Regions from separate parts of the Homo sapiens genome. Here region 2 is linked to region 1. The links come from fine-mapping of genetic effects on gene expression. Tissue or cell type: fibroblasts. Region 1 holds a variant in brackets; the other region holds the start of a gene. All regions are shown on one strand. Distances are from middle to middle.

What was found. PIP is the estimated chance that this variant, and not a neighbour inherited with it, causes the effect.
Region 2: it holds the start of RNF175, and the variant in region 1 is fine-mapped to the expression of RNF175 in fibroblasts (GTEx, PIP above 0.99).

What each region holds. Positions count from the first base shown.
Region 1 is chr4:153,647,699-153,655,959 of GRCh38, reverse strand. It overlaps the pseudogene LOC100419170. Among named protein-coding and RNA genes, the nearest start is that of TLR2, 32 kb to the left of the region's middle. The variant A/T (reference allele first, on the strand shown) is at 3,524.
Region 2 is chr4:153,756,725-153,764,985 of GRCh38, reverse strand. RNF175 (ring finger protein 175) reads left to right here and starts at 4,962. Exons shown (of 9, transcript NM_173662.4): 1 at 4,962-5,189. The coding sequence starts at 5,124.

The DNA.
Region 1 (8,261 bases):
ACAATCAATGTTTATTGTCATCAGCATGCCCTTTGGTCAGGCATGATGCTAGTTGCTGGGGTTAATGGCAAGAAAGTCCTGGTCTTTGACCTGAAGAAGCTCACAGTCTAGTGGGGAAGAAAGAAGTTGAACAAGTAATTCCAAGGGGGCAACATGAGCAGCACTGCAGGCATGAGGCAGAAGTCTCTTAGCATCCCCAGGAAATAACTCATCCTTGTTTAGCAGATGGGCCACCCAAGGCTCAGAGAGATCATTGAAGCAAGTAAGAGTGTCGTCAGGGAGTGAACATCAGACATCTCCTTCCCAAGCCTGTGTTCCTTCTACCAGCTAAGTGAAGGGCCTGCCATGTGCATGTTGCCAGGGTAAGGGAAACTGTGGCCTCCCCCTTACTAGTTGGGTAGTCTTGAGTATGTCATTCAGTGTTTCTGGGTCTGGGTTTCTTGGGAATGTTACCTTTTTAGGGGGTTGTTCAAAAGACGAGATTAGATGGCAGAGGTGAAAAGTGGTGTGACTGAAGTTGTCTGTCTGACTAAAGCTGAAGTAGTCCAAAGTCCAAACTCTGAAGCCTGGAGTCTGAAATCCAGGGTCAGGAGTCTGAAGTCTGAAGTCAGAAGTCTGGTCTGGAGTCTGAAATATGAAATCTGGTCTGGAGTCTGAAGTCTAAAATCTGAAATCTGGGTCTGGAGTCTGAAGTCTGGTCTGGAGTCTGAAGTCTGGAGTGAATCTGAAGTTCGAAGTCTGATCTGGAGTCTAAAAGTCTCCTGTTGTCTGGAGTGTGGAGTCTCTTGTCTGGATTGTGGAGTCTCTTGTCTGGAGTGTGGAGTCTGTTGTCTGGAGTGTGGAGTCTGTAGTCTGTCGTGTGGAATGTGGAGACTGGAGTGTGTTGTCTAGAGTCTGTTGTCTGAAGTGTGCGATCTGGAGTCTGGAGTCTGAAGCTGGAGTCTGAAAGTCTGTTGTGTGGCATGTGGAGTCTGTTGTCTAAAGTCTGGAGTCTGAAGTCTGGAGTCTGAGGTCTGAAGTAGTCTGACTAAAACTGAAATAGTCTTTAAACTAAAAACTATCTTTCTCGTGCTCATTGGTACTATTGTTATGCAGTTGAACACAGTGTTGGTAGAAAAGGAGAAGCAGAAAGAATGTAGATTAAACTTTGATTCCCATCTTGCCTTTCCTTCTGCTGGAGCCACTTCAGATGTTTTCTTTTTTTTTTTAATATATATATATATATATATATATATAATACTTTAAGTTGATTTCTTAATCTAAGTAGAGAGCAGCTTTAACTTGCTTTGAAAAAGCATTTTATTCTGCACAGCAAAGGAAAAAAATTAACAAAATGAAAAGAACCTATAGAGGTGGGTAAGGGGGAGGCGGGGGGATGGGTATGGTTAATGGGTACCCAAAAAATAGTTAGAAAGAATGAATAAGACCGACTATTTGATAGTACAGCAGGGTGACTATAGTCGATAATTTAATTGTACATTTTAAAATAACTAAGAGTTTAATTGTATCATAAGACAAAAGATAAATGCTTGAGGGGATTTTCTGTGACACAATTTGCCTGTATCAAAACATCTCACACACCTCATAAATATATACACCTACTATGTACCCACAAAAATTAAAACAAGATTTTAAACTTTATAGTAAAATAAAGAAAAAAAGAACCTATAGAATGGGAGAAAATTTGTAAACCTTATATATAATAAAGGGTTACTATCCAAAATACATAAAAAATTCAATTCAATAGCAAAAAAACAAATAACTGGATTTAAAGTGGGAAAATAATCTGAATAGATATTTTCCCAAAGAAGACATAAAAATGGCCAACAGGCATATAAAAATGTGCTCTACATCACTAATCATCAGGGAAATGCAAATCAAAACCACAATAAAACATCACCTCATACCTGTTAGGATGGCTAGTACCAAAAAGCCAAAAGATAAGTGTTGGCAAGGATGTGGAGAAAGGGAACTGTTATACATTATTGGCGGGAATGTAAATTGGTATAGCCATCATAGAAAACAATATGGAGTTTCCTCAAAATATTAAAACCAGAACCACCATATGATCCAGCAATCCCTCTTCTAGGCATATACCCAGGGAAAATGAAATCAATATGTCAAAGAGCTGTCTACACTCCTATGTTTATTGCAGCATTATTCACAATAGCCAAAATTTGGAATCAACGTAAGTGTCCATCAATGAATGAATGGATAAAGAAATGTGGTGTATACTACACAATGAAATAGTATTCAGCCTTAAAAAAATAAGGAAATCTTGCCATTTGCAACAACATGGATGAACCAGCAGGACATTATGCTAAGTAAAATAAGCCAGTCACAGAAAGACAAATACTGTATAATCTCACTTACATGTGGAATCTAAAAAAAGCCAGACTCATAAAAACAGAGTAGAACAGTGGTCACTAGGAATGGTGGAAATGGGGACATTGGTCAAAGGGTACAAACTTTCAGTTATAAGATAAATAAGTTCTGAAGCTCTAATGTACAGCATGGTGAGTGTATAGTAATAATATATTGCATACTTGATATACTCGAAATACTTGGTATTTGCTAAGAGTAGATCTTAAGTGTTCTCACACAATGTAACGTGAGATAATGGACATGTTTATTAGCTTGATTGTGGTAATCATTTCACAATGTATACATATATCAAAACAAGTTGTACACTTTAAATATATTAAAATTTTTGTCAGTCATACCTCAATAAGCTAAAAAATTTTTTAAAGCATTTTAATGATTGAAGAAAAATGATTGAAGAGGTAACTTGCAATAAGAGTTACTGAAGTGCTGAATGCTTCTGTACTTCAGAAGCATCACAGAAATGCAGATCATGCTGTATATGCATATATTTTATATGACTGAGTCTGCTTTCTATCTAAACATTACTCTGTTTCTATCTAAACACTACTCTGCCTAGTACTTTTTGTGTGCGCAATATCATCCTGAGCTTTGGATATTCCCAGTTTTCCAGACTTTTCTGGGCTCTGGAAAGGCACAGTCATAGCTATATTTAACTGCCCTATTATTCCTTTGGAAACACGGGCATATAAAAATAAATAAATAAAATAAGAGAGAGTCCCAGGGTCACAGAATGTGTAGCAGGAGAGATTCCAAAAGGAGGGCTGGTCTGTAGGGTAGGATCGCATGGAGAAGTGAAGAATAAGGACTTTCCAGATACCTTGATGTGAGGTGCCAGATCCCACAGGGGCTTAGAGTCACTGACTTCCTGTTTCAAGCACCCAGGAAATTGCAAAGTGACCAAGGCAAGGAAATACCCAAAGATCAGCTTCCAATTTTTGCTGGTGCAGCCTTTTCTGTCACACCACACATTGCTGTGCGTTGTTCATTGTCCAGTCATTCATCCGCTGAATTTCCATGAAGTCACTTCCATGGGCCAGATACTGTGCTAAGCAATTGCAGGGGGCGGGGAGGCGGGGGGGTAGGTATAATTCAGGAGGGGACACGAGGTGCTCGTATCAGTAATTATGCCAAAAGCAGG[A/T]TGCCCAGAGGGAATGATGACTAAGGGAACTCTGAGTCCTTCCTGAGTCCCTAGGTCTCACTTCAGTGACTGAGAATGGACAAGGGCCTGCCTAGGTCTCTCCTAGCCCCTGACTACACCTGTATGTTAGGTCGGCTTGTCCCACAGGAATGACTTGAGCGAAGCAGAACAGAAGAATGTAAACATTTTGTTTTAACAACAAGGTGGGGTTATGCTACAGTTTTGTTTTCTTGGTAACAAAAGGCACAGCCGACTTCTCATCAGGCTGACTCAGGGCTGCCGGCTCATCCTGGGTTTCATATCACATCAGAGAACTCAGTGTTCCTGTCGTGTCTTGTGGGTGACCAGCTATCCCAATTTCCTCAGGACTATCCTGGTTTTAGCCCTGAAAGTCTTACTTACATCATGAGCACCTGGAGTGGCTGACCACCACCCAGCAGCATCCCCTTCTAGTAAATTCTGCAAGGCACTAGTGTGGCAAAAACATGGATTTTAGCATCAGATGGACTCGGGTTCAAATCCTTGTGTGTGCTGTGTCACTTACAAGCTGTGACATAGGGAAGTTACTCAGTATTTCAAAACACAGACACTATTCACTTCATGTACTCATTACCCGGGCCTCATCTCAGCAGGCGCCCACTTCCTTCGTGCTCATTCACTCCATGTCACTGGGCTCCACCCTCTTCCTCAAACAGGCAGAGCTCATTCTGCCACTTTGCCTTTTCTGTTTCCTCTGTCTGGAAGGCTTGAATCTTTCCGGGTGGGCCCTTTCTTGCCCTTTAGTTCTCTGCTTCACTGTTATCTCCTCAGTGAGGTCCTCTCTAAACACTCAATGAAGACTACCTCCCCAACACTCCCAGATGCTCTTCGTCTTATCCCTGTCCTATTTTCTCTCTAGCACTGAGTATGATCTGGAATTGTCTTGTTTCTTGACTGTGGGAGGCAGCCTTCTAAAACGGCTCACAATGATCCCCATTTCCTGGTATTCAAACCCTGTGTAACACCCTCCCCTTCAATGGGCCACCTAGGGACTTGTTCCTAACAAATAGGATATGGTATAGTGATGGGATGTCACTTCAAGATTGGTCATAAAGGACCATGACTCTTGTTTTACCGGCACTCTCCCTCTCGTTCTCTCTCTCTCTCTGGCTCTTGCTTGCTTGCTTACTCTGATGAAGCAAGCTGCCCTATTGTGAGCTGCCCTAACAGAGAGGTGCATGTGGCCAGGATTGGCAGTAGCCTGTAGCCAACACAGCAAGAAATGGAATCCTGCCAACAACCACATGAATGACTTTGAAAGCCAATTCTCCCCTAGTTGAGCCTTGAGATGAGTGCGGCCTGTGAGAGACCCTGAAGCAGAGGACCTGCTAAAGCATGCCCCAACTCCTAACCCACAAACACAGTAAAATAGTAAATGTCATTATTGTAAGTCACTAAGTTTTGGGGTAATTTGCTACGCAATAATGGATAGCTAATATATTGATGTATTATTTATTCCCCCTCTAGAATACTAGCACCATGATAGAAGGTACCTTCCCCATTTGGTTCACTTTGGTATGCCCAGAGCCAAAAACAAAGTCTGGCACATAGTAGGTGCTCAATTTCACTGAATGAGAAAATCATGAGGGCACAGGCTGCACACAGGCCATGTAAGGACAGATGAAAAAAATATTTATTGAATGAATGAGTGATTTTGAGACAATTAAATATGAGAAGGGTAGGGAAAAAAGAGAGTATCTGAGCTTAATTTTAACCATTGCTATGGTTTGAATGTGTCCTCCCAAAAATTTGTGTTGAAAACTTAATCCCCATTGTAACAGTGTTGAGAGGTGGGAACTTTAAGAGGTGATTATATGGATTAATGAATTAATGTCATTATCATAAAGTGGGTTAGTTATCACAGGAGTGGGCGCCTTATAAAAAGGATGAATTTTACCCAATTTTCTCTCTGTCTTGTGCACTTGCTTCCACCTTCTGTCCTTCCCCGCTTCTGCCATGGGACGACCCACACTAGATGCCGGTGGTGCCATGCTCTTGGACTTCCTAGCCTCCAGAACCATGAGCTAAATAAACTTCTTTTCTTTATAAACTACCCAGTCCATGGTATTCTGTTATAGCAACAGAAAATAAACTAAGACAATTATCAAGTGGTTAGACCCCTACTGTGGGCTCAAAAGATGTTGAAAAAGTTAATGAAATGAAAAATGAAAAAAATGAGGTATAGGTTAGAAATGATAAGGATGGTGTTGTCACATTGAGTGTGAAATGCCAGTAAAACATCTCATAAGCATTCATAAATAAGTCTAGCTTTTCACAGAATATTAAATGAGAAAAGGAGTTCCTAGAATAGTGTATATATTCCATTTTTGTAAAAGCACACACATAAACACAAGTCTGGAAGGAGATACAGTCATGCAACTCCTGATGACACTTTGGCCAACAATGGACCACAGATACAACAGTTGTTCCATAAGATCATAACAAAACTGAAAAATTCCTATCACCTAATGATGTCATAGCCATCAGAACGTTGTAGCACAATGCATTGCTCATGTTTGTGGTGACGCTGTACGTAAACAATCCTACTGCACTGCCAGTCTTACAATAGTATAGCATATATATTTATGTATAGTACATAACACTTAATCATAATAGACTATTACTGGGTTTATGTATTTACATACTTTTTATTGTTAGAGTGTACTCCTACTTATTTTTTTTAAGTTAACTCTAAAATAGCCTCAGGCAGTTCCTTGAGGAGGTACTCCAGAAGAGGGCACTGTTATCATAGGAGATGACAGCTCCGTGCGTGTTATTGCCCCTGAACACCTTCGAGCAGGATAAGATGTGGAGGTGGAAGACAGTGATATTGATGATCCTGACCCTGTGTAGACCCAGGCTAATGTGTATATTTGTGTCTTTGTTTTTAACAAAAAAAAATTAAAAGTAAAAATAATTTTTTAATGAAAAAAGCTTATAGAGTAAGGATATTTAAAAAGAAAATATTTTTGTCCAGCTGTACGTGAGTTTGTGTTTTAAGCTAAATGTTGCTTAAAAACAATCTAAAAGTTGTTAAAAGTTAAAAAGTTCATAAAGTAACAAATTACAGTAAGCTAAGTTTAATTTCCTATTAAAGAAAAATATTTTTTATAAATTTAGTGTGCCTAAGTGTAGTGCTTACGAATTGTACAGTAGTGTGCAGCCGTGTCCTAGGCCTTCACATCCATTTACCACTCACTGACTCACCCAGAGCAACTTCCAGTCCTGCAAGCTCTATTCATGGTAGGTGCCCTACACGGGTACCTACCATTTTTTATCTTTTATATTGCATTTTTACTGTACCTTTTTATGTTTTGATATATTTAAATAAACAAATGATTCCCATTGTGTTACAATTTCCTGCCTTATTCAGTACAGTAACATGCTATACAGGTTTGCAGACTAGGAGCACTCAGCTATACCATATATCACAGGTGTGTAGTCAGCTATACAATCTGGGTTTGTGTAAGTACTCTATGATATCTGTACAGTGATGAAGTCACCTAATAAAACATTTCTCAAAATATATCCCCACCATTAAGCAACACATGGCTGTATACCAAACTAAGTGCTTCTTCGTAGTGCAATTACAGTGTTTTTAAATTATTTCCTTTTGGTTTTCAATATTTTCTACAATTGAAAGAACAAACAATATAGGAATTTCCACTTATTCTTAAAAATCAGAGAAAAAACCCATGATGGATGGAAGAGTCAGTATCACAGAAGAAGTCACTGACAAGGAGGAGGTAACCCAGTGAGAGGGAGAATGAGAGAGAGGACAGTGGTTGTTGAGAGCAAAGCCCTAGTGTCATTTCTAAAGCAAAATTTCTGGCTGGATAGGAGAAACAGCATTTGGTCTTGACCATCAATGGCATGCCAACTCCCAGGCTGCCAAGCTCACTCTACCTCATCCTGACAGCTCTCTTTTTCTGAAACATTTATCAGACCTGCCTTTCGAATCCATTTCCTGCCAGCACGCCAGCCCAGCCTTTATTTTTCTCACACTTGCATTTCTACTGCCTCCTGCTAGCATCCAGCTTTCCCAGTGCTTTGAGGCTGTCTCATGCTCAAAAGCTAGAATAACATCCCCTGGTTTTTTTGAACATCCTTCTCATCTTAGCCCCTGCATAAAATCATGAGCTGCAAGACTGCCTCAGCCTTTATCACATCTCCCAACACAACCTGATTGACACTTTCACTTCCCACTGGGAAGCCAGCATTTTACCTCCAAGATAACCACCACGTGTTTCACCAAGTTTTGCTTCAGAATTAAGCCGATGATGAGCCCTTTCATGGCTACACAGATTTCAGGCTTACCAGTTACTCTGGCAAACTATTTTTGAATAGCCGTCCAGCAGTTCACATGTATTTGTTCCTATTATCTTACGTTTTATTTTCTCTGAAATAAAAGCAAAAATAGGCAGTACACACCATGTTTGTAAAGCCAGCTTACTAGGATCCTAGTACTCTCCAGTAGCTGTGCTACAAATCTAGTTTCCCTAATAATGAAAGCATGGAAGACCAAGTGCCGGGTACTACAGTGAATTGGCACTCACTTTTGAAGAACACCCAACAGATAGCCAAAGTGGTGGAGCTTCAAGTCAGGCTTCTTTCTGCTGGGACTGCAGAGCTACTTTCTCTAGAATGAGGACCAGGTCCTACCTGCAGCTCTGAAGTTTAGAGAACAGAGTCTTTCCAA
Region 2 (8,261 bases), 110 kb before region 1:
GTATAGTTGTCTTTTAAAAGGAGTTCTTCTTTTCCAAGATCAATTGTTCAACAGAACTGAAAAGCTTGCCTTCAGAAGAGGCTGACTCCTAAAACCTGCAGGGTAAACCATTAAAAGAAAGAATGTGCCATTACTCAATAAGGAGCAGGGAGCACCATGCATACACTGTCTGAATGCTGCAACTCTGCTGCCTCTTCTATTCGAAATTAACCAGAAATCCGAGAACCTGAAAGCTGAGTCCTAGCTAACATTATTTAAATGAACTGGCTGTTACACGAACCTTAAACCACATGTCATTTGGTTGTGGGGCTGCCATGGGCCAAGAGACATTAATACTGATGGTTCCCAGCTCACAAATGAACTGTGTTCGTGTGTTTGGAAGGCTGTGGTTTGAAAGGCAGAATGCACTTTCCCATAGAAGCAATTTTATAAATGGCAATTAGGGCTACAAGCCAGCTCACAAAAAGCCATGTAACCATAATATAGCTAAACACCATACATTTTAGCCCAACAGAGTGGAAATCAATAGTGTTACAATACTAATAATTAAAGGATGAGATAAAAAAGTACTAGTGCTTAGGCAAAAACAGATTTAATTAAAGGAAGATGAAAATGTCTATCCAGTTAGGCAGAGGGACCAAGGAAAACTGGGACTGTTAAGTCAGGAACCCCGACAGTTGGGAATCAGACCAACTTGCAGGATTTCTGTCAATTCTAAGGAACTAGTGTCTGCATGTGAAGACCAACCTAGCACCCAGAAAGGAGTTTGGGGAGGGGGTGGAATGGAGGGTTAGGACGACTGAAAAGAAGTTAGCCTAGTCATTCCTATGCAGCTATTTCATCAGCCAAGATGGGACCTGGCTTCAGCGTTCCTCCCCTCTTGGGTGATTATTCCTATTTATAACAAAGCCAACCCTGGCCCCAAGAACCACTGGAGTCCAGAAAGTTTGGTGTCTTTTTCATACTGATTTCTGAGATCAGACAAGCTCTTGGATATTCACACAGCCTGGATGGATTTTTACCTCCCTGCCCTGCCCTCATGTAGATGAACCTGCTCTTGCTATCCCCTTCACAGAGGAGAAGTTCTGCCAGTTGCATGGAGTCTCCCTCTGCCATCCTATTCCACATGTGACCAGCACTGCACCTGGCTGGAGACATTCTGAATCATTTATTCTAGCTTAATGCTAGGGATCAAATACACATTTTATCTGGGAATATGAAAAAGACATGAGATATCTGTATATGGTATATGAAATATGAAAAGATGAGAAATGAGGAAAGGAGTAAATTGAAAATGGAAGTTACTTGAAAAAGATCATTTGTAAAGCAATACAATGGCATTCTGCAAGATCTAACCATTAGGTGGCACCACTGGCCCAAGGAAGTTTGGTGGCCCCAAGAAAGTGGAGGAGAAATGGGGAAAATTGCTGAGTGGTCTAGGGTAGGAAGGCTGGAGGGAGCCACTGCGGAACAAGTAACTGAACATATACAAGCATTCCTGTGAAGTGTGTACTCTGAATTAATCCACATATTAATAAATTCAATCATTAATTCCCTTAAAATTATTTTTAAAGTCTCATAATTTTATTTATACAAATTGATTTATATCCCTTGCCCATTTCTATTGATCTACGCTTTTTAAAAATTAATCTCTAGCAGTTCTACTTATTCTGAGTACTAGTCCTTTGTCAATGAGTTATATACAAATATATTCTGGTTCATGGCTTGCCTCTTTTTTAACCGCAAGTTTCTGTTGTACAGAAATTTTTCATTTTAATACAGGCAAACTTTTTTCTTTGCCATTTGTTCTTTGTGAGTCTTGTTTAATATATCTTTTCTTATCTTGAGACCATAAAAACATTCTTTTAGATAAACTATTGCTTTCTAACCACCAGTTTTGTGCTGGTATGGTATAATTTTTTTTTCTTATGGATAAACCAGTTACTAAATAATCTATTTTTTTCTGCTGATTTGCTACTCCTCTCATGAAACTAGTTTTCCATAAATGTATGTGCCCATTCTGTTCCTTGAGTCTGTTGATTCCTGCACCAAATATGACAATCAACTGACTAGTGATTCTTGACCCCACCTTGTTTCTCAAACACATTTACCACATTAGCTAATTTCTTCCATTACATCATTACAACCACCTCAGGACTCTACATTGCGGGACATGAAGAAGGATGCACAGACTACAGATAAAATGCTGAAGAGATTAGTGTTAAGCAGCAGAATACAGTTCATCTATTCCAGGACAGAAGACAGAGTCAGCCGCCAACCATTTGATTTGGAAAACAAAATTTCAAATTAATTAACCTTGTTTCAGTGAACTACTCCAGAGAGCATTGCCTAACTGACTGGGAAATTAAATATTCATTCTGAATATCTGCAATTTGATCATAGAAGAAACCAGGTATAAGAGGAGGATAGATTAGAGCAAAGCCATCGTTACTGATGGGGAAGAAATGCACTTTTTGAGTTTTATTCTGATATGATTGCTGAGCTGAAGCCAGAAGGAAGATGATACCTTTGTGCATACATGGGTCTCCAGTGAAGTATGTGGGTCTTTTTGGTGCCAATCAATCAGGAGAGAGAGTTTCAAATCTGGGACCTGAGACTTATATAACAATAACAGGTCAGAATTTTATAGAAAGGGAACATCTATCTCCATATGGACTATTTTCATTTTATTATTTTGCTGCCTTGGGAGAATCTAGATGAATGTGAGGATATCCTGGGCTGGAGAGAAAAAATGGCTCTTGCCACATGAAGGCAGGCCACAAGATAGGTAGAGAAGTAACATGTCCAAATGAACCCACTATTTTTGTGTCCCCAAATCTGCTGCTCTTTCAATGTTCCCATTCTCAGCAATGGCAGCACTGTCTGCCCAAATGCTAGACTGCCCAAGCCACATGCCTGGGCACCATCCTTGGAGATGAGTCAAGTACAGTAGATTCTATTACCTAGATCTCCCATCCCCAAACACATCTCTCCATCTCCCCTCCACTCTGTCCCCGCACACACTCTCACCACCAAGGCCACTGTCATCCTTAGAGCTGAAACTACAGCAATAGCTTTCTGGCTGGTCTCTCTGTCTTGAGTCATAGTCATAGCCCTCTTCCCCACTCTTGAAGCCAAAAGGCAAGTCTGGTAATGTCATTTTCTTGCTTAAAACTCGGTAATGGCTTCTCATTCTCCTGAGGCTACAGTCCAAACTGTTTAATATGATTTATGTGGATCTGGCCCTTGCTGACCTTCGCAGCTACTTCCTTGAGAGATTAAGAACCCAGACCATGAAGTCAGTTTTGTCTGGGTTCAAATTCCCACTGCCCCACCTATTAGCTTCAAAACTTGAACAAACTTCTGGACCTCTCTGTGCTTCAGTGTTCTCCCGTGTAAAACACGGACGGTCACAATGCCCACCTCACAGGATTGTCAGGAAGACTGAATGAGCTAACACAGGTAGAGTGCTCAGGACGGCACCTGGCACACGGTAAGCATTCTATCAATGTTAACCATGATTTTTATTTCTCCAATTCATTATGCCTTCTCCAGCATTCCGGCCCTTGCATCCACTGTTCTCTCCATCTCAGACACTCTTTCCAACACACTCTGATCATGCTACAAGGTAGTCTTCAGATGTAGGTAACAGCCCCAGCGGCACCTGAAAACTTGTTCAAAAGACAAATGCTCAGGCTCCACCCTAGACCTACTATATTAAAAACTCTAGGGCTCAACTCCAGCAATCTGAAGATTTTTGTTTTGTTTTTTGATAGAGTCTCGCTCTGTTGTCCAGGCAGAAGTGCAGTGGTTCCATCACGGCTTACTGCAGCCTGAACCTCCCGGGCTCCGGCGATCCTCCAGCCTCAACCTCCTGAGTAGCTGGGGCTACAGGTGTACCACGCCCAGCTCACTTTTGTATATTTTATAGAGATGGGGCTTCACCATGTTGCCTAGGCTGGTCTCAAACTCCTAGGTTCAAGCAATCCGCCCGCCCTGTCCTCCCAAAGTGCTGGGATTAAAGGCATCAGCCACTGTGCTTGGCCAGCACTCTGAGTTTTAACAAACTCAGCATTCCTCCATAGGATTCTGATGCCCAGTTAAGGCTGGAAAACCAAGGCACCATCCGTGATAAATTGTACTTAGATGCTTATTTTTCTCTATCCCCTGTTAGGCTCTACGTTCCACAATGGCAGAGAAATGTCCATCTTGGTCTGTTCACCTCCTTTGTAGGTGTTGACAAATACGAGCCATCACAAACTGGAAAGGGGTAAGCTGTATTTCGTAGGACACATCATCTAATTCTGTGCTCCTCTTTTCTGTTTCCCCAAATCAACACCCAGGTATTTCTAAAGGCTTGCCTAAACGTTCCAGCTTGTTCTCAACCTTGAAGCCAGGCTTAGGCCTAAGTTGTAAAGGCGGGAGGGGAGACCCTGGAGGTAGAGGGGCAAAGGCAAGATGCTTGCGTCGCAGGGGCCCTGCATGGCCTGGAGCAGCATAGGGGCCAAGATGGTCTGCGCTCTCCCTAGATTGGAGTTTCTCTCCTTCATCATCTTTGGAGGAAGCACAGATAACTGAGGAAAGTCTGTATCTGCACAGCCACCCGAACTCCTGCCTCCTAATAAACACCTCTGAGGGAGAGGAAACTCTCTCTCTCTCTTCTCTTCCTCCCCAGCACCCCTCGCCCCCCCACCGCCATTTCTCACTCCTCTACTCCCCTCTCTCTCCCTACCCACCTCTGACCCCTCCTCCAGTCCTGCCGCCCGGTAACAAAACCGGGGTTCCCGCCACACGCACCCGGTAGGGCTCAAGACGCTTTATCGGCGACAATGGCTGGCTGAATGGGAGGCCTGAGGTTCTGAAGGAACCGGGGTGCTGGCGACCGGGACCTCGAGGCCGCTGCTGGGGAGGACGCTGGCCAGCGTGCAGGGGGCGGAGGCGGGGCGTGCCGGGAGGCTCCCATCTCCCGCCCCGCACAACCCGGGCAGGGCCGCCGCTCCGCCGCCGCCGCAGATCCGGCTCTCACCCTCGGCTCCCGAGGCCCCGCGGCGCCTCCTTCTGCGGACTCTGCGGGACCCTCCCCGGCAGGCGCTGTGCCCTGGAGAAGGCACAGTGGCTCAGGCATGGCCGCGGGGACGGCGGCGCGGAAGGCAGCGCCGGTGCTGGAGGCCCCCCCGCAGCAGGAGCAGGTACTGGCGCGGGGGCGCGGGCGTGGGGGACGCCAGGCCGGGGTCCCGGGGCTCACGCTGGTGCCGGGCAGGCTGCACAGACTGGTCTCCAAGACCCCGGGCCCCACCGGGGAGAACCGGCCCTGGAAAGACGTGGGGACGGACGCATGACCTTCTGGAAGATGCCACCGTGCGGGGTGCCAGTCCCTCCTCCACTCCCTCCCTCCCCACTTCTGTGCCCTCCCCGCTACCTTCCTTTCCTCCTTCTGATCCTCTTCCTTCGCTCCATCCCTCTTCTCGCATCCTCGCACTTTCTCTTCCAGGCTCACCCCTTCCACTCCCGCCCTCCTTTGTGACCGCCTGTGCCCTCCTCCCTCCTCGGCGGAAGCCCCCAGAGCCCAGGGTCAAGGTCGTAAGCTGCGAGAGAGGGGAAGGGGTGTACTGCAGGCTTTTGGCTAGACCGCCCTGGTTCTCAAACTCGAGTGTCATCAGAATCACTCGGAGGGCCTGTTACCACGCAGACTGCTGGTCTGTGCCCAGGGTTTCTGATTCAAGATGTGTACCCTGATCGTCAGCTTGTCTTGCCTGGTGCTCAACCTAGCCCATTTCTGCTTCTGCTGGCGTCAATTGCAAACCCAATCTTAATTTATTCTTCGTTCATAGGACAATTCTTCTTAGGCTACATCCAGGTACCAGGAGGATTTGGGGGTGGAGGAGGGTAGGTCTTACCTGGAGGAACCCAAATCCCATCCGTAAAACGAGGACAAAAATAACTCTTAAGGGCAAAGATAACTCTTAAACAACAACAAAAATCACTCACAGAGCGGGTAGGAAGAGATTAATGTCCCAAAATAGGTTCAGGCAAAGAACTGTAGGATTTCTGAGAAGGGCTTGCTCCTGACTAACCCCCTTCTCCTCCAACCCGTGAGGGCGTGGCATTCGAGCTGGGTGTTGGGGAATGGACAGGATCTGACCTCATGGGCCAGAGAATTCTAGATGGAGGGAACAACAGTACCAAATGGCTTGGAGATTTTTTTTTTTTTAATATTGGGATGGATGGCCATGGGACAAGGCAGAGAGAGGGGACTGTCCACTCTGACTGCCAGAAACCTAGGGGTCAGGAATGCTTATAGCAAAAAATAAGGGTGGGCTAGGCTGTGGAGGGGCTTGTGTACCACAAAATGGGGAAACTTAAAATGAAACTCCATGACTTTCTTGCTGGTTTCAAACCCAGATTATCGAAAGGGAGGTTCTGAATTGATGAATGCATGCCAGGAGTGTCAGAGGATCTAGTACTGGTGGATTTGCTGCTGATCTTTGCTCTTCCTTAAGGCTGGCATCACTGCCTAGTCTGCTGCCCTCAGGAGGTATGGCCTCTCTGTTGAGGCTGCCCTAGGAGGGACTCACAGCTTTTCCCTTAATCCCATATGGCAAGACAGTGTGGTCCAGGAACCAGCAGCCAAGGCATTACCTGGGAGCCTGTTAAAAATGCAGTCTCAGTTCCCACGCCAGACCCACTGAATTGAAATCCGCATTTTAACCAGATCCCAGGGTGATTCATTTGCACATCAAAGTTCAAGAAGTGCTGGTTTCTTGACTTTACTAGAGCTAGGGATAAGAAAGTGAAAACAGAGATAGTTACTGACCAGCCTATTATCTGATAGCTTCCCTTTGGTTTGAACCTCACCCTATTTTATTTTCCTTCATCACCCTTATCACTACCTGAAGTATGTCTATGTGTGTATTTGATTGTCTAAGAACCTCCTTCAGCATGAAAGCTCCAGCAGAAAAGCCATGTGGTCTGCCTTGCTCGCTCCTGTATTTCCAGGACCTAGAACAGTCTCAGCAAACGGCAGGGCCTCAATAAATATTTATTGAATGAATAAATGAACAGTAACGTACAATCTTATGATGTAAGACCCTAACTCCAGCATACCTTACTGGACAAACACCATCTCCCTATTCCCCATCCTCCACCTCCCCAGCTACAACCCCTGGGGTCTTTTGAGCCTGCAACTGGTTAGGTATGTTTGAAACTCCTAAAATTTGGAGTGTGAGAGCAGAGACCATGGGTTTAGGAGTTCCCTCTTCTGCTTGTCTAAGGCTTGCTTTCCAGGCTCGGATTTCTCCTGAGAGCTGAGAGGACCCACCACTTCCCCAAAACTGCTCTCTGCCTGGGGGCAGGCCATACACAGCCCCTCCTCTCCACCCACAGGCATGCAGCCTTGCCTTGTGACATGAATTCCTTACCAATGAATACAGCCCTCTAAACCTAACATTCCTACCTGGCACTCACATGTGGTCCAGGGTCATCACTAGTTTCTGAGTTCATTGTTCTGGCTTTGCTACTTGGTTTAGAAAGATTTTTCTAACAGGTGGGTTTTGTGAGGGAAGAGTTGAAAGTGACAAAATCAGTTTGGAGGCAGCAGTTCAGGTGAGAGATAATGAAAGCCAATCGGGGTGGCAGTCTCCAAACACATTGAGTGTGCCATGCACCAGACATGAGGATTCAGTGGGGGGATGAGGCCAGCGCTGGCCACCTACAGATTCAGGTAAGTAAATAAGTCATCAACAATGCAGTCTGGTAACAATGTTCAAGGTCAGTATATATCCTGGTAGGGGCCTCACCGAAAGGGTGTCCTGGAGTAAGTGGGATCCAAGGGTGAGCAGAAATGAGGCAACCCAGCATGGAGGCTGGGAGTGGAGGGAGAGCATTCAGGGACAGGAAAGCTCTGCTTGGCTGGAGCAGAGGGTGTGCAGGGGCAGTGGAGAGAGGGGAGGCTGAAATGGGATACAAGGCCTTGTGAGCCATGTTGGATTTCAGGCAGGAAGACAATAGGATCAGTCTACCTTTAATGGGAACACTCTTACTGTTTGAAGAGGGAAGAGAGCGAAGGCAAGGGCCTCAGAGGAGGGGGACACCCTGCATGCTGGCCTCCATCTCATCTTCCCCTAGCCACCCTATCTAAAGAGTGACAGCCCTTGCCCTCTGCTGGTAATTCTTTATCACACATTTTATTTTCTTCATATAATTTACTTCATTAGGCAGTTGTTTTGTTTGCTTGTTTATTGTGCATCATTTCCTCTAGAACA